Linked DNA regions of Homo sapiens. The protein of the gene in region 5 purifies or fractionates together with the protein of the main gene of each other region. This does not show direct contact. Each region holds a gene or a part of one and is shown on either strand. Other genes may lie near its edges. The genes, in order: LETM1, OAT, OSBPL8, IARS2, RER1, TMED7 and STX12.

Region 1 (3,500 bases), on a different chromosome or scaffold from region 5:
CCCTTCTCTTGGCCACGCCCTGTGCTGGTGCCTGGTTCCCAATGCCATCAAATTGAGTGGCTTGTAGGTCGGAAAGTGACAGCCCCAGCCACTCACTCTTACATGGAAAGGTTAAGGGGTGCAGGGCTCCAGCCGGTTTCCTCCCGGTGCCCTGGCACTGGCATGCCCTTGTTGGCAGTCATCCTCCTCCCGGGTTTTTCACACAACCTGCAAGTGTAGATGAAGGTGTGTGTACACACTTCTCCTCTCGACACAGACAGTATTTATGGCGTGATCCTGTGGCACCCCCTGCCTTCCACAGCCGCGTCTTCCATCGGATTCCCCAGCAGAGCCTTCTCTGTGTCTGGCATGGGTGCTGACCTCCCTAGCACTCTGCCCAGCCTTCTGGAGCTCCGTGGGGATATGGGCCACACACACAGGGGTGTCTGAGCAGGGGGGCAGGTGCTGTCCCTGCCCAGGCCCCTCGGCCCCCAGGGGAGTGTGGCGCATTGGGGGCCCGAGTGTCATGTGTTCACACTTTTCCTTCTCTACCCACCTCTCGGTGGTGCCTTTCTTCTCTTAGGGTTTGTTCTCATATTTTCTCTACCCACTTCTCCTCAGCGTTGCCTTTCTTCTCTTAGGGTTTGTTCTCATGTTTTGCCCCGTGTTCAGTTTGTCTCTAAACATTGTCACGGTCTTTCTTGCCCATTTGGAGATTGTCTTGGTGTTACTCAAGCAGCCAGCCCCGGAACCTGGCCTGTGCAGAGCCTGCAAGGGCCCGAGTGCTGACCGGCCTCAGTGACACTGCCTCTGCGGGCCCGTATATGTTGACCTGGGCTGGTCTTGTTTCTTTGTTTGAGACAGAGTCTTGCTCTGTCACACAGGCTGGAGTGCAGTGGCGCGATTTCGGCTTGAAACAACCTCCGCCTCCCTGGTTCAAGCAATTCTTGTGCCTCAGCCACCCAAGTAGCTGGGACTACAGGTGCACACCACTATACCTGGCTAATTTTTGTATTTTTAGTAGAGATGGGATCGCCATGTTGGCCAGGCTGGTCTCGAACTTCTGACCTCAGGTGATCCGCCCACCTCGGCCTCCCAAAGTGCTGGGATTACAGGCGTGAGCCACCGCGCCCGGCCCCTGGGGTGTTTTTAAGTGAAGAGTTGGTGCCCTGTTCTGAGGCCCTTGGGGTCCTCGCTGTGGGGGTTGCTGACCCCCAAGCCTCTCTGGTGTTTTGTTTACTAACGCCGTCATCGGGTCACGCAGCACAGCAACAAACAGACCTTGTAGAACTTGAGACACTGTCTTCTCTGAGAGCTATTCTGGTGATGAGATGGGCGGACCTGCTGTGGGGCCAGCAGGGTTGGGGGGCTGCCCATCTGCTGAACCTGGCCTTGGTTGCAGTGGCTGGACCTGCACCTGCATCAGGAGATCCCCACATCGCTGCTCATCCTGTCCCGGGCCATGTACCTCCCGGACACCCTCTCTCCAGCCGACCAGCTCAAGTCCACACTGCAGACCCTCCCAGAGATTGTGGTACGTGCTGTCGGAGACCCCTTTTACCTCATCTCTTCATAGGTGGCTCCGCTCTTCTGGGGTGGGGGGAGGTGTGCAAGCGCACTCATTCCTCAACCATGGGCGAGGAGCCTGCCTCCCACCCCCTCGCGAGTGCCCCCACCCAGCCACCTGTCCCCTTCCTTCCATCCCTCCTCACCAGCCCCTTGCCTGCCATCCCCCGTGTGGCACAGTTGCCAGTGGTCCCGACCTGGCCACGTGTTGGCTGCTGTGGATCTGGGCCGCGGCCCTTGGAGCTGTGTCAGCAGCGCCTATGCTCCTTCCCACATGTCAGGAGTCATCGGGCGAGCGCAGAGGGCGGCCCAGGGGCCTCCCAGCAATTGCGGGCAGCACCTCGGCAGTGCCTTCTGTCCTGTGTGTGTGAAGCCCAGGTGGTGACGGGGCAGGGGACACAGGACACAGGACAGAGGTGAGGGGCAGCAGGGGCCTCTGGTGGCTTCTGGGCTCACCCACAGATGTACCCTCTTCTGAAGGCAAAGGAAGCACAGGTGAAAGTGGCCGAGGTGGAGGGCGAGCAGGTGGACAACAAGGCCAAGCTGGAGGCCACGCTGCAGGAGGAGGCGGCCATCCAGCAGGAGCACCGTGAGAAGGAGCTGCAGAAGCGCTCGGAGGTGGCGGTAAGCGGTGGTCCTGCTCCGTGCCGCGTGGGGCTGTCCTGAGCCAGCCTCCCTAGAAACCCCCGCACGCCCACAGTCTTGGCCTCCCGCATGCTTGCCCTGCAGCTCTGTCCTGCATGTTTATTTCCTCCTGGAGTGGTCAGGGAGGCAGGGTGCCCGGGTGTGAGGGCTGCAACTCTGACATGGGGACTCCCCGATGGCCACAGTGGTGCTCATGGGAGATATACCTTAGCCGTCTCAGAGGGGCAAGCTTAGCATATGGCAGTGCCCACCCTCTCCTCAGGGACTTGCTGTGAGGGGCGCTGGCAGAGGAGCTGCAGGCTCCCCCAGCCTCTGGGCTCCTCTTCAACGCGGGCCCTGTGGTCCTCTTGGGTCACATGCATGGTGCCCACCCACAGGCTCAGCCTCCTGCTCTGCAAGTGACAGGGCAGCTTGGGGGAGTCTTGGGGAGACCAGAGATGGATAAGGTGCTCTAGCCTGTTCTGGAGAGGGCCCCAGGTGACCTGGCAGCTGCATGGAGCCTCCCTAGGGACCTTCTGTGGCAGGTGTGCTGCCCAATGTCACCTGCAGGCCTGCTCCCAGTGTGGCCTCTGCCATATGTTCTGAGCTTCGGGGAGCAAGAAGACTGCTTCTGTGTGATGGCGGGCGCTGGGCTGGTGTCGCCTTGCCTTTCAGAAGGATTTTGAGCCCGAACGTGTGGTAGCTGCTCCCCAAAGGCCGGGGACCGAGCCACAGCCAGAAATGCCTGACACAGTCCTGCAGTCAGAGACCTTGAAGGACACTGCCCCGGTGCTGGAGGGCTTGAAGGTAATGAGGCAGGTTCTGGGGCCCTGGAGGCTGAGGAGGGCATGGCCTGGCTTTGTGGACAGTTGTGGGGCAGGGATGGGGACAGGTTAGCTGGGGCATCTATAGCCCTCAGTGAGAGGAGATGGTGCAAGGGGTTGAGGATGAGGCCACTGGGCCCCTAGGAGGCTTGGTGGTTAGGAAAAGAGTGAGTCCGGCCGGGCTCCGCACTGTGCCTGGGTGCACAGCAGCTGACGCTGCCGTGAACTTAGCACCCTGGCCCACAGTGTGGCAGGTAGAGATGCCAGTCGGCAGGTTTCAGGGCCCTTTGCCAGCTTGCCCAGACAGTGAAGGGGTGTGGAAGCCAATGTGGCCCCTCAAGGTAGAGCCTCCTCCACAGGCCCAACCTGCTGTCACCTCCTGTGGGGTGATCTGGGCTTGGAGCATCTTCAGACTCCCCATGCGAGCCTGTGAGGTGCAGCCTCCAGGCGCCTGTGCTGCCTACCTGGGGCGCCTCCTGGTACCTTCCATCTTGAACTCGCGGGCTG
Region 2 (3,500 bases), on a different chromosome or scaffold from region 5:
TCCTCCCACCTCAGTCTCCTGAGTAGCTGGGACTGCAGATGCATACCACTACACCCAGCTAATTTTTCAATTTTTTTTAGTGATGGAGTCTTGCTCTGTTGCCCAGGCTGGTCTCAAACTCCTGGGCTCACGTGATCCTTTGACCTCAGCCTCCCAAAGTGCTGAGATTATAGGCATAAGCCAAGGATTCTCACTCTTAATGCATTCTCTTTTCTTTGGACAGATCTGTGGTTTTTCTACTTGAAGGACACAATGTTTTCCAAACTAGCACATTTGCAGAGGTTTGCTGTACTTAGTCGCGGAGTTCATTCTTCAGTGGCTTCTGCTACATCTGTTGCAACTAAAAAAACAGTCCAAGGCCCTCCAACCTCTGATGACATTTTTGAAAGGGAATATAAGTATGGTGCACACAACTACCATCCTTTACCTGTAGCCCTGGAGAGAGGAAAAGGTACGTTTCAAATTAATCCGTCTTTTCCCTTTTCTTGAAACCTTTTATAAAAAAAAATTGCTTCCATATTTTCACAATATACATTTTTCTAGATGTGTTTAATGTGTATATTGCAGACATGGTTAATTCTTCTTCTTCTTTTTTTTTTTTTTTTTTTGAGACGGAGTCTCACTCTGTCACCCAGGCTGGAGTACAGTGGCACAATCCCAGCTCACTGCAACCTCTGCCTCCCAGGTTCAAGCGATTCTTCTGCCTCAGCCTCCTGAGTAGCTGGGACTACAGGCGTGCGCCACCACACCCAGCTAATTTTTGTATTTTTAGTAGAGATGGGGTTTCACCATGTTGGCCAGGCTGGTCTCAGACTCCTGACTTTGTGATCCTCCCACCTTGGCCTCCCAAAGTGCTGGGATTACAGGTGTGAGCCACCACGCCTGGCCAGTTAATTCATTTATTGAGTGTCTAGTGCTGCTGTGTTAGGTGCTATGGAGGCTTCAAAGAGGAACCATTGTCTTTGTCATGTAGACCTTACCAAGAGGGAATGCAAGAGAAATAAGGAAAGTACTATCATATTGCTGTCATTTTTTTCTTTTAACTTTTATTTTGGCATAGTTTTAGACTTAAGAAAAGTTGTAACAAATAGTACTGACATTTTCCTTTTATACTTCTCCCAGATTTTCCAAGTGCTAACTTTTTGCTGCTTTGGTCTTAGTGTGTTCACTCCCTTCTCTTCTCCCCCCGCCGCCTGCATATTCTACATTGTTTTCTGAACTGTTTTGAGAGGAAGTTGCAGACATGACATCTCTTCTTCTTTTTTTTTTTTTTTTTTTTTTTTTGAGACGGAATGTCGCTTTGTCACCCAGGCTGGAGTGCAATGGTGGGATCTCGGCTCACTGCAACCTCTACCTCTCGGTTTCAAGTGATTCTCTTGCCTCAGCCTCCCGAGGAGCTGGGACTACAGGCCCACGCCACCACGTCCAGCTAATTTTTGTATTTTTAGTAGAGACAGGGTTTCATCATGTTGGCCGGGCTGGTCTCGAACTCCTGACCTCAGGTGATCCACCCACCTCAGCCTCCCAAAGTGCTGGATTACAGGCGTGAGCCACCGCGCCCCGCCACATGACATCTCTTTACCCATAAATACTTAGTGTGTCTTTCCAAAAACGCAATGACTTTTTGAGATAGGGTCTCATTCTGTTGCCCAGGCTGGAGTTCAGTGGTGTGATCATGGCTCACTGCAGCCTGGAACTCCCGGCTTCAGGTGATTTTCCCACCTCAGCTTCCCAAGTAGCTGGGACTACAGGTGTGCCTTACCATGCCTGGCTTATTTTTTGTAGAGATTAGATTTTGCTATGTTGCCCAGGGTGATCTTGAACTCCTGGTCTCAAGTGATCCTACCACTCAGCCTCCCACAGTGCTGGGATTGCAGGTGTGAGCTACTGTGCCCAGCTGACTTTCTCTTTTATAACCATAGAGTAATTGTAAAAATCAAGAACTTAACACTGGTACAGCACCATTAGTCTAGAGACCTAATCCAGATGTCATTTGTTCTCTTTTATAACAAAAGAAAAACCTCCGATGAGTTGCATTCAGTTGTCATGTTTAGTCTTCTTTAACCCAGAACAGTTCCTCAATCCTTGGTTGTCTTGGTCTTCTTTCCCTTTGTATTAAGTATCTTGTGGGGACAGAGTGTAAAACTCTGTAAATATCCAGTTACTCATGAACTTTTACTCACAATTTCAGCATCCACTAATGATTCTTGCCTGAATAAATGATTACGGTGGTAGTTGCCAAATGGTGATTTAATCTACAATTTGGAATAAATAACAGCCTTAACCAAATAAAACCAAAGTTTATTACTTAGCTTTGTACCAGAAAATGACAATATAAGAGTATCACACATTTTGGTCATTTGCTTGTATTTTATTTGGTACCAGTACTGTAGACATATCTTCTTTTGAACTATTGAAAATCTGTTTCATATTACATGACATGGCAACCTTGTTTTTACTTTCCCACTAGCAATGTATGAGAGTGCCAATTTCTTCAGATCCTTGTCAAAAGTTGTTTTTTTAATTATAACCATCCCAGGGAGTATGAGATGGTATCTCATTGTGGTTTTAACTTGCATTTTCCTAATGATTAGTGATGTTGAACATCTTTTCATGTGTTTCTTGCCATTTGTATATCTTCTTTGAAGAAATAGCTATTCAAGTCTTTCCCCATTTTTTAAATTGGGTTGTTTGTCCTTTTGAAATTGAGTTGTAAGAATTCTGGATATTAGATCCTTATCAGACACATGATTTACAAATATTTTTTTTCCATCCTAAGGGTTATTACAGTCTACTTCTCATGATTTTTGTCTGTTATGTGTAACTTCTGCTTTTTTATTTTTAAATTTTATTTATTTTATTTTTTTTTTTTATAGGCAGGATTTTGCTCTGGTGCCCAGGCTGGAGTGCAGTGGCACAATCTCAACTCACTGCATCCTCTACCTCCCAGGCTCAAGCAATCCTCCCACCTCAGCCTCTGTAACGGGACCATACGCGCGCACTACCATGCCCAGCATTTTTCTGTAGCGTCAGGGATTTTGCCGTGTTGTCCAGGCTGATCTGGAACTCCTGGGCTCAAGCAATCCCTGCCTTGGTCTCCCAAAGTGCTAGGATTACAGGCGTGAGCCACGGCTCCCTGCCTAACTTCTGCTTTTAAATTCTAATTTTGGATCCTAAATCTTAGAATTAGGTAAAGGTTTTACTCCAGAGTTTATAACCTTTTTGTGTTATTTTTGTTAAATGTGTGTTTTGAAGCTGGGCAGATAAAATACAATTCTTAGTAATTCCTTACAAACCAAAGTTTATTATGCCTGAGCTAAAACAAGCTTTAACTACAAATATGTATTAAATAGAGGTTCATATATAGGCATTCAGAGGGCTTGCTAGCACTCTTAATTTTTGGACTTTATGCCGTATAGTAATTGTCTAAAATTATTTTCCTTTCTTATGTATTTTAGGTATTTACTTATGGGATGTAGAAGGCAGAAAATATTTTGACT
Region 3 (3,500 bases), on a different chromosome or scaffold from region 5:
AGTCATGAATAACTCTGCTCTTTCTTAAGAAATAGTTTTTGACTCTTTGGGTAAGAACCCATAACATTTGCTCTAAAAAGAAATTTTAAAAATAAAGAACACAACTACCTATTTAGTCTTAGAAGATACCCATACAAATAAAATATTATTTGGACCAAATGAAAACAACATACACGTGGATAAGACCAAAGTCCTAAGAGGTGGGTCACCAGTACAAAATGTTAACAAGGTTTACTGATGAAATGATTTTTGTGATAAGCCAATCAATTTGTATGTAATTAACTAATTTAAACCATAAAAAAGATCAAATTGTACAATATTTACAGAATATCATATATCAATGAATAGGCAGAGTGTAACAGAATGTGAATACAAAAATTATATTGACAAATATAAAATATAACCAAAAACCCATTTGTTCTAATATCATGAAAATACTGGGTATAGGTAGATCTTATTTAAGCTTTTATCAATTTAAAACATCATTTCACATGTACATATGGAATACAGCATTATTTTGCCAAGAAAACATGGGAAATGGTTCTTCACAGAAACCTAAGGATACTTAAGATAGCTATATTGGTTAGGGAAAAAAGCAGGCTCTTTTTATCATTTTGATTCTCATAATTTACCAATCAATGTATTTATTTACCAATCTTGTATTTATCATGGCATAAACGATTATAATTTTACTATTTCACAGCCTCCTCCTACTGAAAGGCAAATGTGGTCAGGGCAATTATTCTCTCTGACCTTCATTTTCATTAAAAAAACATTTCAAAATCTATGCTTTCAGGATTCTAAGACATATTTTAGAACAACATATTCCTAAACTGAACTACCTTGGCAAAAATTGCTTTCAAGGAATATAAATATTTACGTAAAAACACAAAATCAAAATATTAAACTGAAGAAACAAACAAAAAAATTTGCCTTAGCCTGAACAATAGGAATCTTAAAGAATTGTGGTTTTGCCACAGAAAGAAGTTACTAAGAAGAGAGGAGGATAATAAAAAAATTAAACTTCAGAACTTGATACTCTTCGTAGATACTCAACTTATTACACGTTTTACAGAAACCAATTTTAATGCACACATAAAGGCCACCACAAAGTGTCTTTTCTTATTGCCTCTTTTTGGCTTTTGAAGTAAAATACTGGTTATATTTTTTTATATTCTACTTATTCACTGAACACACTGGAGTCTAAAGCTAAAATAAGTTTTCATAATGAAAAAACATAAATTATCAGCACTTCAAATGCTCTATAAACATCTCTAGAATTTGGCCTATGTTATGAACCAGCTGACTTAAGAAAAACAAAAATAAGACAAAAGGACAGCAATCAATTTTGACCACACTTTTTTCAGCAAGTGCTTAAGGTGGTATTATAATCAATCCAATTAATTGCACACCAGTGTTTTTATACTGATATACACGTAAGTATATATATTTACCTGCATCTACAAATATTAAATTCTAGGGGTTAAAAAAAACTTATGTAAACTTTTAAAAAAGCAATTTGCCATTTATCTCTCTCGATGTATTCATTTTGACCATTCATACTTTTTCTTTCTTTCTAAGAAGATAATTGAGCTGAGTGCTTTGCAAATGATTTTAACAGTAGTGTATTGAATTAATTATGTCTATTATTCCATCATTTCTCAATCTGTAATTCCTTACTGATAAAACTTTTGTGCCTGTTTTATGAAGAAAATAGATTACATATATTTATAAGATTGATAGCATTTTTTGTTATGAACAATGTTAACATTATATCTCAGAACATACTATAGAATACAAAGACTACTGTCAGGTAGGAGTACATAAGAGACAATTGTGTATACATGTGGGTTTATTATACTCATATGTAGACACATTCTCACAAAAGCTAGAAATGTCCTGGCACTTAACACATAGCTCACTTTAATAATCAAATAGGATAGCTCTTGTTTCAGTGTGAAGATAAAAGATACGAAAAGTCAATACCTCTACATTTATCTCCTAGGTTTTTTTGTTTTCGGAATATTGTGATTTTTAATAAAGACCAAACCAACTTGAACACTGGTCCCAGGCCAAATCAGATCTTTCTAGTTCACTGATTCAATGGTAGAGAACTTCTACTTGAACATGAAGTTTATTATGACTTGAAGCAAAATCAGGAGGAAAATGATGAAGTAGTCTTTTTGTTGCAGAAAATAATCCGTGGCCGGTGTGCTTGAAACTAAATGATTTCGAAGAGCCATAATATTTCTATAAAAATAAGCAACAACAAATTTTGTAATGATTTGCCAGAAATGTTGGCATAGAGCCCACAATTTGATATTAAACAGTCACAGAGCATTTAATGTTAATAATTTTTAGTTGCTGGGTCATGGGGTGGTATGTAGGGGTGGGGGGGGGCGGGGTCTGGGACTGCAAAGAGGAATACTTAAGGGCTCAGGGAGTAAATATTTACCCAATGTTATGGATGTATTTCAATATTTCAACTGATGCATTCCAATGAAATAACAGCCATGCACAGAGGGGACTATAGAGGCCTTTGTTAACTGACTTTCTCAGAAACAATCCCACCTCCACATGCAACCCAGCTACATTCCTAGCATGCTATAGGAGTAAAATAAAGTGATTCCAATTCTACCCTTACAGAGAAAAAACAACCTCTCCTTCCTTCCCAAGTATTTTAGTGCTGGAGGAATTTCGTAAGTGTCAAACATCAGGTGATAGAGGCTAAACATTGTATTTTAGCTTAGCTAAATGTTATAAAAATATGAAGTCTGCATATGATTTCCCATATAACAGGATTCTTAACTACTCCTTGGTCTCAAATGAATAGTCAGTGTCATTATATTATTACCTTTTAATTTCTTCCTGTGTTTGTTTTATAGATTCGATGGAACTCTGAATGTCTCCCAGTTCTATTCCTTTCTTTCTTCTTGTACTTGGTTTTACTGATTGAGCTAAAAAGACATTTAGAATGAAGTTGAAACTATAAAAATAATCTACAGTTCAATTTAATGTGTCTCATGTAATAAAAATTTTCCTGGGCATTTGTTTTTGTAGCCTAGAGATTAGCATAGTAATATGAATACTCTGCACTTTTGAAGTTTCAAACACATCATTGCAATACTAGAACACTACAAATATATTTAAAGTACTACACATTAGTTGAATTTTGGATGGCACCAGTTTTTTTAACTAATTAAAACAGAAATAATTCATTAGAAATACATATTAACTTGAGGAAGGTATTACTCTCTTCTGTTCCTTGCCCATTTGCCTACCTCTGAAGTCAGCTTCTTGAGCCCTTTTTTCCAATTTTTTATTGTGAGTGTTTAGTTACCTAAACTTTAAATCCCTTTCGACACCACTTCTGCAAATTTTTACTGCCAATCAGCAAGCTGTACATGTTTTTCCAAATTCCCTACATATGCATTCCTTCCTTTCCATTTTTGTTCAGATCCTACTTAACCTCTCTGCAAGTGTCAGCTTTCTCATTTTAA
Region 4 (3,500 bases), about 220 Mb from region 5:
CCCGGCTAATTTTGAAAAAATATTTTACAGAGATGAATTCTTGTTGTGTAGCCCAGACTGGTCTGGAATTCCTGGGCTCAAGTGATCTGCCTGCCTTGGCCTGCCAAAGTGCTGGGATTAAAGGCGTAAGCCACTGTGCCTAGCCCAAAATAATTCTTTGTGAGCTATAATTTGGGACTTTTGAGGTAGTGACTGCTTTGAAATATAATTATGGAAGTCTAGGGAAGTTTAAAATTAGCTTTTTGTTGTTGTTGTTCTTCATTTTGTTTTGAGACGTGGTCTTGCTCTGTTGCCCAGGCTGGAGTGCAGTGGTGCCATCTTGGCTCACTGCAGCCTCTGGATCCTAGGCTCAAGTGATCTTCCTGCCTCAGCCTCTTGAGTAGCTGGGACTACAAGTGTGTGCCACCATGCTGGACTAATTTTTAATTTTTTTGGTAGAGATGAGGTCTTGCTACATTGCCCAGGCTGGTCTTGAACTCCTGGCCTCAAGTGATCCTCCTGCTTTGGTCTTCCAAAGTGCTGGGATTATGGGCATGAGCCACTGTGCCTGGACTAAAATTCTATTTTATTTTATTTTATTTTTAAAGAGATGAGGTCTCACTATGTTGCCCAGGCAGATCTTGAACTCCTGAGCTCAAGTGTTCCTCCTGCCTCTGCCTCCCAAAGTGGTAGGATTATAGACGTGAGCCACCATGCCTGGGCTAAAATTATCTTTGATCCTTAGGTATGATATATCTTTTAATTTCTTGCTAAAAAATCTATCACATGAATAAAGATACAAAAACTGCCTAGAAAGACTGCCTAGCTAAATAGGAAAGCCCTCTAAATTAATCAGTTCAGATACAAGCCAATGAGAAGTTTAAACAACCTTAACAAAAATAAAAAGATTTTTATGTCAGAGGCAGGAAAGGAGCTTAAGAATTTTGAAGACCATTTGGTCCTCTTTGGTGCAATAGGGTAATAAAAATAAAAACCAAGATAATAATTTACTTCACACCCTCTCTCACTGTGTTGCCCAGGCTTGTTTCAAACTCCTGGGCTCAAGCAATCTTCCTGCCACAGCCTCCCAAAGTGCTGCAATTACAGACATGAGCTACTGCACCCAGCCCCCTGCTCTTTTATAAATGCAGAGGATATTAAAGACTTCATTGTCAAGTTATACATTATCATAGAAGCTAAAAATCACAAGATTTTTGAAAGTGTTAAGGTTGAATTTAAAGATCTTTTGTCTAGATAGCATAATTGTTTCAAATTCTTACTATCAGATAATTATTGAGTTGCTATTTGAGTCACCATATTGTGGAGGAGTATATATATTATCCCTGTCAAAATAAGCTGGTGTCACGTAGCTACTACTTATTAAAGTAGTAGGAATGTTGAAGAGCTAAAAATGAAGTAATTTGTATGGGGTAGGTTTTCTTTCCGGAAAAAAATGAATTATTTCTTATCAATTACTTAGAGATCATTTTGGGAGGGTGGTGAGGGAGAATATTAAGTGGTAGATGCAGTAAGTATCAAAACACTTAAACTACATTAACTCTGTTTATTCTCACAGAAACCCTCTGAGGTGGGAACCATAATTATCTGCATTTTATAGATTATAGAAGGTCACAGAACAAGTTAAAGGGGAAGCTGGAATTTAAGCCTAGCCAGTATTGTTCTAGATTCTGCACATTTAACCTGATACTCTATTGCTAAGCTTAAGGAGATAGATTTGCCATATAAAATGATTCTTAATAGTGGTTTTCTTTCCCCACAGGTGTAGATTTGGAAAATGGTACTTGCAGTCATCCATTAATTCCTGATAAAGCCTCTCCTCTTTTACCTGCAAATCATGTGACCATGGCAAAAGGAACGGGATTGGTTCACACAGCCCCAGCTCATGGTATGGAAGACTACGGTGTAGCGTCTCAGCACAACCTGCCCATGGTACTGTTCCTCTTTTATCATTTTTAATTATTCATCTTAATAAAAGGAAATGATAAATTCTAACCAACATCTTCATTTTTTAAAAATGATGACTTTTGTCATCATAATTGTGAAATGCTCAGGTTTGTGTAGTACTCTAAAGTTTCATTAATTCGTACTAATTGAAAAAGATTTCCCAGAATTAATAGAAAATTAGCACTTTAGAATTGAAGAATATATATCATGGGGCACTTTTAAAATACTTTTTTTCTAGTATCAAGTCACATAGACAAATTACTTTTATTCCCTGAAAAAGCCTGTTTGTTTTAGCTAAACAGTCCTTTCTACATTTACTTTACATACTTCAGTTACTTAGCAAGTATTTCCGTTTAGTTAAAAGGTGAGTCAGAAAGGGAACAACTGTGTATATAGGCATAGATTTGGAAACAATAGAGACCACTCAAAGATGTTTTAATATATTTTGTTACTTTTGTTATTAAAGTTTATGGATATGCTTCAATAACACATTTTGGCTTTGGTGATTTAAATGTATAAAATTCACAAATTCCTATTTCCTTTTCTTTTCTTTTCTTTTTTTTTTTTTTTGAGAGGGAGTCTTGCTCTGTCGCCCAGGCTGGAGTGCAGTGGTGTGGTATGATCTCGGCTCACTGCAACCTCTACCTCCAGGGTTCAAGCGATTCTCCTGCCTCAGCCTCCCGAGTAGCTGGGACTACAGGTGCACACCACCATGCCTGGCTAATTTTTGTATTTTTAGTGGAAGTGGGTTTCACCATGTTGGCCAGGCTAGTCTCAAATTCCTGACCTCAAGTGATCTGCCCACCTCGACCTCCCAAAGTGCTGGGATTATAGGCCTGAGTGCCGCGCCCGGCCAAGTACCTAGAATTTCAATGTAGAAAAAGACCAGGCTATACTGAGATGTTTTTATATATATTGTTTTGCCAGATATTGTCATAAGAGAAAATGTCTTGATATTTTAATTGTTCAAAATGATACTTTATAGGATTGTCTAGTGGACGAAGATGGAGTTTTCACAGATGTTGCAGGTCCTGAACTTCAAAACAAGGCTGTCCTTGAAGAGGGAACTGATGTGGGTGAGCATCATATCTGTTGATATCATACATGTTTTCTGAAAAGTAGGTAGCAGTAACCTTTGCTACCTATTTTCCCTCCTTATACTTTAACAGAAACAAAAAAATAAATTATGTCTTGTTTTGCCATATGTTTTAAAATGGAGTTTGGGACTTTTTCATCTTTTGCTTTGAAGCTGCTTTATTTAAGCAAGTCAGGGCAGTCAACAGGGAGTGAAGTTATTTTAGGGCTATGGAGATAATAATCAGCAGTATTACTTTTGTGGAAGGATACAATCAAGATCAGGGCTGGATGTTGACTGTAAATTACACATTCCCTACTCACTTTTTAACCCTTGTAAATAACTGACCTATATGGCATGATTTATGTATTAGAATCTTGGGAATCCTCCAGCCTTGAATTGTCTTTCTGTCTTCCTTTACAGATTCAGAGACCAAGTGCTATGAAAACCTTTCTTTGCCCACACTAAGACTAAGGCTATT
Region 5 (3,500 bases):
TGGCATGGCCACCAGTGCTCCCTCCCGTCCCAGCACATGGCCAACAGATGCCACGGCCCTGGAGGCTCAGCTCTCCCTTCCTAGTCCAAGCTTCTGGTGGCTTCCAGGGCCCCTGATCTTTCTGTACCACACTCCATCTGCGGCTGCAAAGTCAAGGCGTGGAGCCCCACGAGCTCAGCAGGCTCCTTCAGTTTACTGATCTAACAGACTTGGGTTCCTCCTGTGCTCCCAGAGTGGGGTATGAGGGACAAGACAAACGGATGCACACGCTCCCGTCCCTCTGACGGCTGCACCACCCACCTCTGCCTACCCGTGCAGACACGGACACCTCGGCTCAAACCCCTCTCAAAAATGACTCCAGGAGAAGGCTAGTCCCTCTGCCAGCCAAAAGGAGCCACAAGGCTGGGGATGGGAGAGAGGAAGGAGGAAGGAGGGAGGAGGAGGGAGGAGGAGGGAGGAGGAGGGAGGAAGGAGGGAGGAGGAGGGAGGAAGGAGGGAGAAGGAGGGAGGAGGAGGCAGGAAGGAGGGAGGAGGCGGCAGGAAGGAGGGAGGAAGGAGGAGGGAGGAGGGAGGGTGGAGGAGGGAGGAAGGAGGGAGGAAGGAGGGAGGAAGGGAGGAGGAGGGAGGAGGAGGGAGGACAGAGGGCCTGCCCTCCCCAGGCCACAACCACAGAAGCCGGTGCGCACTCCATCCCAGACTCAACCTCCAGGGCACTGGTGCTGACTTGAAACCAAGAGAATGCGGCAAGGTAGTGAGTGGCCTTCTACAGAGAGCCCCTGCGATTCCCCGTGCCCAGCCCAGCACAGCAGTCATCTTTCAGGTGACTTGAACAAAAATCAGTGTAGTCTCAGTCTCAGCCACCCTTGAGCACAATTCTCTTCAAATACCGTGAAGAATTAGCTCACCAAAATTTAAACTCTGGGAGCCTTCGAATGAAGGGGCGGAATTCCTCGTTCTGTTTGGTGGGTAGCGAAGGACCGTCATCTGTAAGGCAGAGCAACCATCAGGGAGGGCACCTCTTTTCATTCCCATCACAGTTCTACCTTTTCCCCTCAAGGCTTTGGACTAGCAGGCCTCACAAATCTAAACCGAGATTCATGTCATTTAACCAGAGAAAACGAGAAAACGGGGGTCTGTGGTCAACTGACACATCCAATTCACTGCTTTCAGAAGGTGCTATCAGAATGTTTTTAGACTTCCACACGTTTTCAATGCACGAAGAATTCAACCACATATAAACATCCAGGAACACGTCAGCTGCACCACGTAAAGGCACAGAAGAAAACAAAGGCAAATTAACATAAAAAGCAAGCGGCAGAGAACAGGGCGGGGCCGAGGATGCGCTGACCGTGGAACCCGGGCGCCAGGCCTGTCCCACCAGCAGCTGTGCCAAGCCCACTCTCACCCCGCCTCCCCCACTGGGATGGGTGCCGCTCCCCATTTACAGATGGGAAAACTGAGGCCTACAGGAAAGGGGCTCTTTGTTATTTTCTAGTCTCCTCCAAACAGCAACAACAGAGAGGGGCTGTGTTCCCAGCAATCTTTTCATCACATATCCTACACAGAAGACTCACAGGCTTCTGGCCACACAGTGAGAGCATACCCTACTCCCTGACAGCAGGTTCCCCCAGAACGAGGAGGGTCCTGGCAGGGAGCTGCGTGTGGGTTTTCCCTCAATGGCCACCACGTCCTGGAATGCAGTTGTTTGTTCCTCGCCTGGGGCTGGCCAGTCAGGCATGAACTCAGGGCCCCTACCTGGCCCAGGCAGGCCCAGGAGCTGCGTAAGTCTTCCAATAGTGGAGCACGAAGCACCAGGAACACTTCAGCTCACAGCTCCTCAGAAACCAGAGAAGGCCGCCCAAAGCCTGACCCGACCCGATGCTGGCATTAGAGTCCCGGCGGTCTCTGTGCACCACAGTGAGCTGCCTGTGGAACCCTCTGGCTACGGGAAAAGGTAACCTCGTCATGGCTGCCTCCGCTGATTCTGAGAGGGACCACTGACTGGGGTGGGACGGGGGCTGGAGTCGGACTGTCCACCTCAGACCCCTACTGTCTGTGGTGCCATGTGACCTCGAACACGTTACCTAACCCTGTATGCCTCAGTTTCCTCATCTGCAAAGTGGGAAAACAGAATGAACACCCACTTCGTGGCTGTCAGGAGGGTTTGAAGAGTCATTCTACAAACATATCCTGATCACCCAACATTACAAGTACATTTCAACCCCAAGAGAAGAGTCTCGGGTGTTTCCAGAGAACACTGGGCAATCCCATCAGAAAAGAAAGGCCCAACCTGCCCACACAGCCCAGTGCACAGCCGCTACCCTACCTGAGTCTTCCATTAAGGAAGGATCCACTTTGGGAGAAAGAAAAGCTATGAAAAGATTTAGATGGTAGATCCCCAAGGCATAGGTCACAATGTACCAACCCTGAAAGAGAAGGAAAGAGAGTCAGTGGTGCACTCTGACCGTCCATCAGCCTGAGCCAGTTCACGTTTGCACTCCGGTTCACTCTCAACTTTGTTAACTGATCTAACTTTGTTTTAACACAAAACTTACTCATAGCAAGGACAAGGAAATACAGTGAAATCCCATGGTAACAATTTATCTCAAATTATACTCTGTGGGAACAGAGACAAAGCGGACAAGCAAGGGCCCAAATGAGCAAAGCTCTTCAAGGGTCCAGTTAGACACATGTGATCCCTGAAGCCACAGACGCCCCACAAGGAGCGCAGCAGAAAAGGAGGCTTTTCTCAAGAAGCACATGCTCAAGCTACACCACAGGCTCGGGTGGCCCGGGCACCTGAGCGATGCTGGCCCAGAGCCCCACCCAGGAGCAGCTTCATCAGAAACAGAAGACAGACTCTCAACTGTGACTGGAGGCGTGCTGGCTGATGTTCCTCCAACAGACAATTCACATTGCCAAAAACACTCTGCCAGGAGGGTTAAACCTTTGCCCAGAAGAAATCCACAACTGGGAAATCCAGAAAAGTGTGCTTATGCCAAGCCTTCCTCAAGAGATGAAAAGTGGGGAGAATTTTGGCAAGATGCCTGAGTGCAGCACACTTATTTGCAACTAATTCATTTTTTAAAATGATTAAGCATATCCCGTTAAAAGCCAGAACCGCATTCTCAATTTCAAAAGCCTTAAATTTCTGTCGGGTGTGGTGGCTCACGCCTGCAATCCCAGCACTTTGGGAGGCCAAGGCGGGTGGATCACCTGAGGTCAGGAGTTCAAGACCAGCCTGGCCAACATGGTGAAACCTCGTCTCTACTAAAAATACAAAAATTAGCCAGGCATGGTGGCACATGCCTGTGATCCCAGCTGCTCGGGAAGCTGAAGTAAGAGAATCACTTGAACCCAGGAGGTGGAGGTTGCAGTGAGCCAAGATCAGGCCACTGCACTCCAGCCTGGGCGACAGAGTGAGACCCCATCTCAAAACAATAAATAAAAATATAAATGCTTTAACTTTCTTATACAAACAAGAAGTCTTTCTGCCTAAA
Region 6 (3,500 bases), on a different chromosome or scaffold from region 5:
ATAAAAAAAGGTGTCCTTTCCACAGTTTGGGAATATGCATTGTACATCCCTCCCAACAAGTGTATGAGTAAGGATTTAAAAATGTTGCCAATATTAAGTTCTTCAGTACCTAAAATTAATTAGAGGACAGCAATATTACAGTGGCAATGGTGCATCAATTCTCAAAACGTAGTTATGATCCAACACGAGTTGTGGTGGTTCTTTTATCTGAGAAAAAGCTTTTCAAAAGAAATACCTGCCCTATGCTAACCACCAGAAGAATGAGGGCTTCTCCTACTGACCAATAGGCCACTCTTGTATTTAGATCCTCTGCTCGGCTTCGGCCTTGAGCTTCTCTTAAACGGAAATGAGTCTGATAATCGATGACAGACTTCAGAGCTTCGTGAATTGAAACACAGGCAGATTCCATCTGCAGAGAAATATTTTCAGTCAGTATGTGTGATACTTTCTGTAGACTTCATCTATCATATTCAGCTTTTCTTTCAATTTGATCTCAATTCCTCTTTTGACTAACATGCTACTAATCTGGCATTCATTCATACATTTATGCCAGTTGTCTTTGCAATGAAACCCCCCTGCTCATTTTCACTGGGACAACTGTTAAGGCTAGAGATCTCATGAAGCAGCTGTTTTCCCCAACTGAGATGTCACAGCCATGGCATCAGTAAGGGGGCAGATGGAACACTAAGCTAACAATAGCAGAAATACTTATCAGCTAAGGTTGGTGACTACAGAATTTCCAGCCCAAGTTCTTTAAAGAAGAATTAGGAAGAAAATGGCAGTGAGCTCACCAATGAGAATATAAGTCAAAGCCCAAATATCTATAAAAATAAACAAAGCACAGTACAAAAAAAAGCTGAATTAGTCAAAGTTCTTTGAACTATGTTTAAAACAGCCACAACATCAAAATCGTTAGTAACTTTTAAATCTGAAAGGGATCTATCAGAATAGGAATGACTTTGTTTTTTTACATTTATCTATTTGTTAAATCAGCCTTTTCCCTCATGCCAGTCAACTAAACCAATATGTATGTTCCCAACAGGATGCAAGTTTCAGTTTCACTGTGTAATCAATTTGTGAGCCTTTAGCTGATAACAGCTTGCCTTTTTATACATTTATTATACCATCTGTTTTGAGAAAGGTTAAATGACTAGTTTTTTTGTATACCATGGTTTAATATTTTTCTACTGCTGCAAACTTAATCCTAGTGGTAAAATATATGTTTTATTATTATTTTATGCAACAAGCCTGTATTAAGAGTTTTAAAAACAAATCTAAGTTTGTTTTAATTTTAGTTAAGGAATATAGAAATTAGAAAATAATGTTTAATGAAGTTCTGCCAAAGTAAGTATGAAAGGAATAATTATTAAAATATTCTATTAAAAGTGCTTTTAAAAAATGTAAGAAATTATGAGGCCAACAAACTGCATTAACCTATTAGAAGAGTCAAATATTTTTGTTGTCCTTGCTTTGTTCAGGCCCCTAGGAATGAAAAATTTGCAAAACTGTGCTAAAATGATTCCTAATTTGTGATGAGGAGCTAGAGAGAGATGTGCTTCTAGGATTTGCTTTCTCTATATTCTCAAAATGGCATATTGCCCAAGGATTCTTCACCTGGAAAGTACACATAAAGGCAAGGAGTTGACCCAAATGCAGAATATTTAGGAACTCCTTCAAGCCTGTCCATGGGGTATGGGTTAAGAACTACTGGATTAGAGAAAATCACAGAAATTAAATTACATGCATTCTACAACTTTTGAGATGTGACTTTTTTTGAGATGGAGTCTCGCTCTGTCACCCAGGCTGGAGTGCAATGGCGCAATCTTGGCTCACTGCAACTTCCACCTCCTAGGTTCAAGTGATTCTCCTGCCTCAGCCTCCTGAGTAGCTGGGATTACAGGTGCACTCCACCACATCCAGCTAATTTTTGTATTTTTAGTAGAAACAGGGTTTTACCATGTTGGTCAGGCTGGTCTCTAACTACTGACCTCATGATCCGCCCGCCTCGGCCTCCCAAAGTGCTGGGATTACAGGCGTAAGCCACCACGCCTGGCCTGAGATGTGATTTTTAAAAAACTTTTACAGTGAAAACTTCCATATATATTCAAAAGTATTGAGAAAAGTACAATGAACCCCCACCATGTCAACAAAGATTAACACATGGCTAATCTTGCTTCATCTACATTCCCCGATTATTTTTAAAGCAAATCTCAGATATTTTATCACTTCAGCTACAAATACTTTTATACTTTATTTCTAAAAGATAACACTTTTTAAAAACATAACCCCAATAGTATTATAACACATGAAATAATCTAAAACAGTTCCTTAAAGTCAGGAAATAGTGTTCAAATTTCCCCTATTGTTTCAAAGTTGGTTTTCAAGTAAGAATCCAAGTAAGGTTAACACAATCATTTGGCTGATGTAAGTGTTCATTAATCTTTAGGCTTTCTTCCTTGTTTTTCCTTTTTTCCTTGCCATCAACCCCTATCCTGTGGCATTTCCCACGTCCTGGATTTTGTTGATTGCATTCCCATGTTATTCCTTTATCCTCTGTATTTCTTGTAAACTGGCATTTGGAGCTAGAGACTTGATGGAATTCAGGTGCAATGTTCTGGGTGGGAACGTCTAGTAGTCAATGTTGTGTACTTCTTACTGCATATTATGATAAGGCACATAATGTCTAGTTATCTCTCCATTTGTGAATGATCATTCAGTCTGATCCACTCAGTATAAAGTTCCCCATCAGCCTTTTACTTAATGGTTTTAGTAGTGACTGCTGATCATTGCCTACTCTAAATCCATCATTTTATCAACAGGTAAAAAATGGTGAGAGTAAAACTTTTATCATTTATTCTGCATTACTAGCTGGTAATTTTGTTCTGAACTTACTAGCTGGTAATTTTGTTCTGAACTTACTAGCTGGTAATTTTCAATTTTAAAGTATGAAAAGTTGCTTTATAATGATCCCTATTATATGATACATTATCTTTTTGAAAGTAGAAAAATAAGACTGAGAAAAATAAAAAATGTAGCATGGATAAAGACGGGTATGATACTAACTGCTTTATTACCATTCATTTCTTATATTTACCCACTTAGGTTTTTAGAACAAGCCACCTTATACAAGTTAAAATTCATGAAGGAATGGATACAGGTTAAGGTAATGGCCCCAAAGAAATATCATTTTACAAAGCAAGGTGTCCTTCACACAAGACCTTAAAATAAAGAGAACATTTCTAAAATTAAGAGTATTTGAATATATCTTGCTAATTCTAACAACAGGTTTATGAATTAAGGCTTTTACACATTCTTAAAGCTGTTTCTTTCACCATGACTTTGGCCAAGAGACTAAATAGAACCTGGGAACACTAAAATACCAGTTTAAGATGTTAACGAATAAGTGGTAAATAATTCTTTTTCATGCCTAATTGAGTAACTTTTAGATACGATCTAAGCCCATACAGGTTGAGTATCCCTTATCCAAAATGTTTGGGACC
Region 7 (3,500 bases), about 25 Mb from region 5:
TTCCAGGCAGTATGAAAAGTGCTTTACATACATTATCTTATTTTATAACAACTCTGAAGCACCAGTATCATTTCCATGTTATGTATTAGGAAACAAACTAAGAAAGGTTAAATAGTTGCCCTGCTAACAAATGACAATATCTGAATTTGAAACTAGGTCTCTTATGACCAGCAATTTGTCTTTTTATTACTTTTTATTAATATTACAGTTCTGGGCTGTGCTCAGTGGCTCACACCTGTAATCCCAGCACTTTAGGAGGCCAAAGAGGGAGGATTACTTGAGGCCAGGAGTTTGACACTAGCCTGGACAACATAGTGAGACCCCATCTCTACAAAAAAAAAGTTAAAAATTAGCCAGACATGGTAGCATGTGCCTGTAGTCCTAGCTACTCAGGAGGCTGAGGCTGGAGAATCTCTTGAGCCCAGGAGTTGGAGGCTGCAGTGAGCTGTGATTATGCCACTGTACTGCAGCCTGGGTGGCAGATCAATACTTTGTCTCTAAATAAATAAATTAAAAATAAATAAATCAATAACAGTGCTATAGCAGTTAACACTTCAGGTTTACAAGTATGCAAATAACTTGTTTTTTCACTCTCCAGAGGACACTCTGTGGGGGAAATACCTGAAGCCGTGGTGCTTTCTCTTCTCGTGGTGTGTTCATCTCCTCTGCCAGATTGTTAGCTCCTTTGAGTCAAGGGACATGACTTATTCATCTTTATATTTCCAGTACTTATCTCAGTCCCAAACATATGAAAGATTCATTGATCCACTATGCAACAAATATTCCTGGAGCACCTGCTGTGTGCTGGGGTGAAGCAGAACAAGAGATAAAATCCCTCCCCTGATTGTGTGTATATGTGTGTTTCTGTGTGCGGGGGGAGTATGTATACACACATACGTACATACACATATAAATAATGTCAAGTAATAATAAATGCTATGAAGAAAAAGCAGGGTAAGTGGGTAGAGAGTCAGGGAAGAGGGAGGGTGGGTGCATTATTTTAGTTGATCAAGGAAGGCATCTCTGAGGAGCTGACATTTGAGTGAGTAGACATGTGAATGAAATGAGCAAGAGCTGTGTGAGTAGCTGGGAAAGGCATTCTAGGTAGAGGGCAAGAGCAAGGACTTTGATGTGTTCAAAGAAGAGCAAGGAGGCTAGTTTGGCTGGAGTACCGTTAGAAAAGGGAGGCAGAATAGGAAAAGAGGCCAGAGAGGTAACCAGGGATCACATTATATAGGATCTTGATGCATAATAAATTGTATCAAATTGATTTGAATGAATGAGGCATTTCTACCATTTTGGAACTCTTCCTGCCTCTTTCCCCTTGTACTGTGTAGTACATACCATATCCTATGACCCTAGGCAGTGTGAGTTGAGATTCTTCCAGGCCGGACACGGTGACTCACGCCTGTAATCCCAGCACTTTGGGAGGCTGAGGCAGGCGGATCACAAGGTCAGGAGTTTGAGACCAGCCTGGCCAATATGGTGAAACCCTGTCTTTACTAAAAATACAAAAAAATTAGCCAGGCGTGATGGTGCACGCCTGTAATCCCAGCTACTTGGGAGGCTGAGGCAGGAGAATTGCTTGAATCCGGGAGGCGGAGGTTGCGGTGAGCCGAGATTGCGCCACTGCACTCTGGCCTGGATGACAGAGCGAGACTCAGTCTCAAAAAAAAAAGAAAAAAGAAAGAAATTCTTCCTTTGGAATTGTTTGGTGAGAAATGGGAAATCTGAAATTGATGGGATGACGTTGCATCTACTCAGTTATCAAGCTAGTGCCTATCCCCAAACCTCTCCAAGAGGCCAGCACACCCAAATATACCCTTAGAATATGAGCTCTCAGACATATATATTACCCACACACCCATACAGCCCTGCAAGGACTTGTACCCATTAAAAGTCTGAGAGCATAGTTATTCTTTTTTCTAAACTGTTCAGCCACAGATGTGGGGTTGGAATTGCTGAGCACATCAGCCTGAGATAAGGCAGCTCACTGCGTGGGTTGTTACAGGTACAGCTAAGGTTGACTGCCTGGTACAAGTGGTGATTATCAGTATGTGTTGGGTACAGAAGAAAAATATTTGACTTACTGTGGAACAAAGTGTCTGGGCAAGTATTGCTGAGGCAGATATAGCTGAAAACCTATTAGCCTCAAAGTTAACTCTGAAGGGATTAAAGAACAGCATTTCTGACTGGGCGAGGTGTCTCACGCCTGTAATCCCAGCACTTTGGGAGGCCGAGGCGATCGGATCACCTGAGGTCAGGCATTCGAGACCAGCCTGGCCAACATGGCGAAACCCTGCCTCTACTAAAAATCAAAAAGTAAGCCGGGTGTGATGGCAGGCGACTGTAGTCCTAGCTGCTCGGGAGGCTGAGGTAGGAGAATCGCCTGAACTGGGGAGGTGCAGGTTGCAGTAAACCAAGACCAAGATCGCTCCACTGCACTCCAGCCTGGGCAACAGAGCGAGATTCCATCTCAGGAAAAAAAAAAAAAAAAGAACAGCATTTCTGTTCTTTATGTTGCTAATTGATGTGATCTTGTTTACTAACAAAATAAGAAGAGTGGAGGTCTCACTCTGTCACCCAGGCTGGAATGCAGTGTGCAATCGTAGTCCACTGTAACCTCAAACTCTTGGGCTTTAGCGATCCTCTTACTTGAGTCTCCCAAATAGCTAGGACTACAGGCATATGCCACTGCGCCTGGCAAGTTGTAAAAGTTTTTTAGAGACGGGGGTCTCGCTGTGTTGCCCAGGCTGGTCTTGAATTCCTGACCTCAAACCATCCTCCCACCTCAGTCTCCCAAAGCAAGAAGAGTTGAACATTTAAAATTGATTATTATGAAATCCTTGGGGTTCCACTTTCAAAGTTATTTTCATGTTTGCCCCTTATTTTTTATGTTTCTTTGCTATCCTCTTAAGTATTCATCAGCTCAACATCTGTATTTCAACAGCATATTCATAGTGTCTCTGATTATGGTCTTGCCCCATTCTAGTTTATACTGATGGTGCTATCAGCACTATGTCTAAAGTCCTGTTTTTATTATACTGCTCACTTCCTCAAGAGCCTAAAGTGGCTCTCTGTTGTCTATTGAATCAGATGGTTTTTTTTGTTTTTGTTTTTTTTTGTTTTTTTTTGAGCCAAGTCTCACTCTGTCGCCCAGGCTGGAGTGCCATGGCGCAATCTTGGCTCACTGTAACATCCACCTCCTGGGTTCAAGCAGTTCTCCTGCCTCAGCCTCCCGAGTTGCTGGGATTACAGGACCTGCCACCACGCCCAGCTAATTTTTGTATTTTTATAGAGACAGGGTTTCACCATGTTAGCCAGGCTGGTCTCGAACTCCTGACCTCAGATGATCCACCTGCCTCGGCCTCCGAAAGTGCTGGGATTACAGGCATGAGCCACCGTGCCTGGCCTGAATCAGATCTTAATATTTCACCTTGCTTTCACTCCCTGCGATCTTAACCCAAATTAGCCATATTTTCTACTCTTCCTTACTCTTT

What was found.
Region 1: the proteins of RER1 (region 5) and LETM1 purify together in Homo sapiens (affinity purification with mass spectrometry; one large-scale study listed by BioGRID and IntAct). This does not show direct contact.
Region 2: the proteins of RER1 (region 5) and OAT purify together in Homo sapiens (affinity purification with mass spectrometry; one large-scale study listed by BioGRID and IntAct). This does not show direct contact.
Region 3: the proteins of RER1 (region 5) and OSBPL8 purify together in Homo sapiens (affinity purification with mass spectrometry, with the first as the bait; one large-scale study listed by BioGRID). This does not show direct contact.
Region 4: the proteins of RER1 (region 5) and IARS2 purify together in Homo sapiens (affinity purification with mass spectrometry; one large-scale study listed by BioGRID and IntAct). This does not show direct contact.
Region 6: the proteins of RER1 (region 5) and TMED7 purify together in Homo sapiens (affinity purification with mass spectrometry; one large-scale study listed by BioGRID and IntAct). This does not show direct contact.
Region 7: the proteins of RER1 (region 5) and STX12 fractionate together in Homo sapiens (co-fractionation; one large-scale study listed by BioGRID). This does not show direct contact.

Annotation. Positions count from the first base shown.
Region 1 is NC_000004.12:1,821,657-1,825,156, reverse strand, and holds part of LETM1 (mitochondrial proton/calcium exchanger protein precursor), read left to right. Parts: intron 1-1,381; coding exon 1,382-1,513; intron 1,514-2,025; coding exon 2,026-2,169; intron 2,170-2,844; coding exon 2,845-2,976; intron 2,977-3,500. UniProt on the Homo sapiens protein: Plays an important role in maintenance of mitochondrial morphology and in mediating either calcium or potassium/proton antiport. Mediates proton-dependent calcium efflux from mitochondrion.
Region 2 is NC_000010.11:124,408,924-124,412,423, reverse strand, and holds part of OAT (ornithine aminotransferase, mitochondrial isoform 1 precursor), read left to right. Parts: intron 1-223; 5' UTR 224-252; coding exon 253-451; intron 452-3,458; coding exon 3,459-3,500. UniProt on the Homo sapiens protein: Catalyzes the reversible interconversion of L-ornithine and 2-oxoglutarate to L-glutamate semialdehyde and L-glutamate.
Region 3 is NC_000012.12:76,353,772-76,357,271, forward strand, and holds part of OSBPL8 (oxysterol-binding protein-related protein 8), read right to left. Parts: intron 2,958-3,500; coding exon 2,855-2,957; intron 2,251-2,854; coding exon 2,118-2,250; 3' UTR 1-2,117. UniProt on the Homo sapiens protein: Lipid transporter involved in lipid countertransport between the endoplasmic reticulum and the plasma membrane: specifically exchanges phosphatidylserine with phosphatidylinositol 4-phosphate (PI4P), delivering phosphatidylserine to the plasma membrane in exchange for PI4P, which is degraded by the SAC1/SACM1L phosphatase in the endoplasmic reticulum.
Region 4 is NC_000001.11:220,104,132-220,107,631, forward strand, and holds part of IARS2 (isoleucine--tRNA ligase, mitochondrial precursor), read left to right. Parts: intron 1-1,759; coding exon 1,760-1,929; intron 1,930-2,929; coding exon 2,930-3,020; intron 3,021-3,500.
Region 5 is NC_000001.11:2,398,341-2,401,840, reverse strand, and holds part of RER1 (protein RER1), read right to left. Parts: intron 2,427-3,500; coding exon 2,327-2,426; intron 985-2,326; coding exon 906-984; intron 1-905. UniProt on the Homo sapiens protein: Involved in the retrieval of endoplasmic reticulum membrane proteins from the early Golgi compartment.
Region 6 is NC_000005.10:115,616,037-115,619,536, forward strand, and holds part of TMED7 (transmembrane emp24 domain-containing protein 7 precursor), read right to left. Parts: intron 3,164-3,500; exon of another isoform or gene 3,103-3,163; intron 410-3,102; coding exon 173-409; 3' UTR 1-172. Other genes in the region: TMED7-TICAM2 (TRAM adaptor with GOLD domain isoform 1 precursor), read right to left, coding at 282-409. UniProt on the Homo sapiens protein: Potential role in vesicular protein trafficking, mainly in the early secretory pathway. Appears to play a role in the biosynthesis of secreted cargo including processing and post-translational modifications.
Region 7 is NC_000001.11:27,776,219-27,779,718, forward strand, and holds part of STX12 (syntaxin-12), read left to right. Parts: intron 1-3,500. UniProt on the Homo sapiens protein: SNARE promoting fusion of transport vesicles with target membranes. Together with SNARE STX6, promotes movement of vesicles from endosomes to the cell membrane, and may therefore function in the endocytic recycling pathway.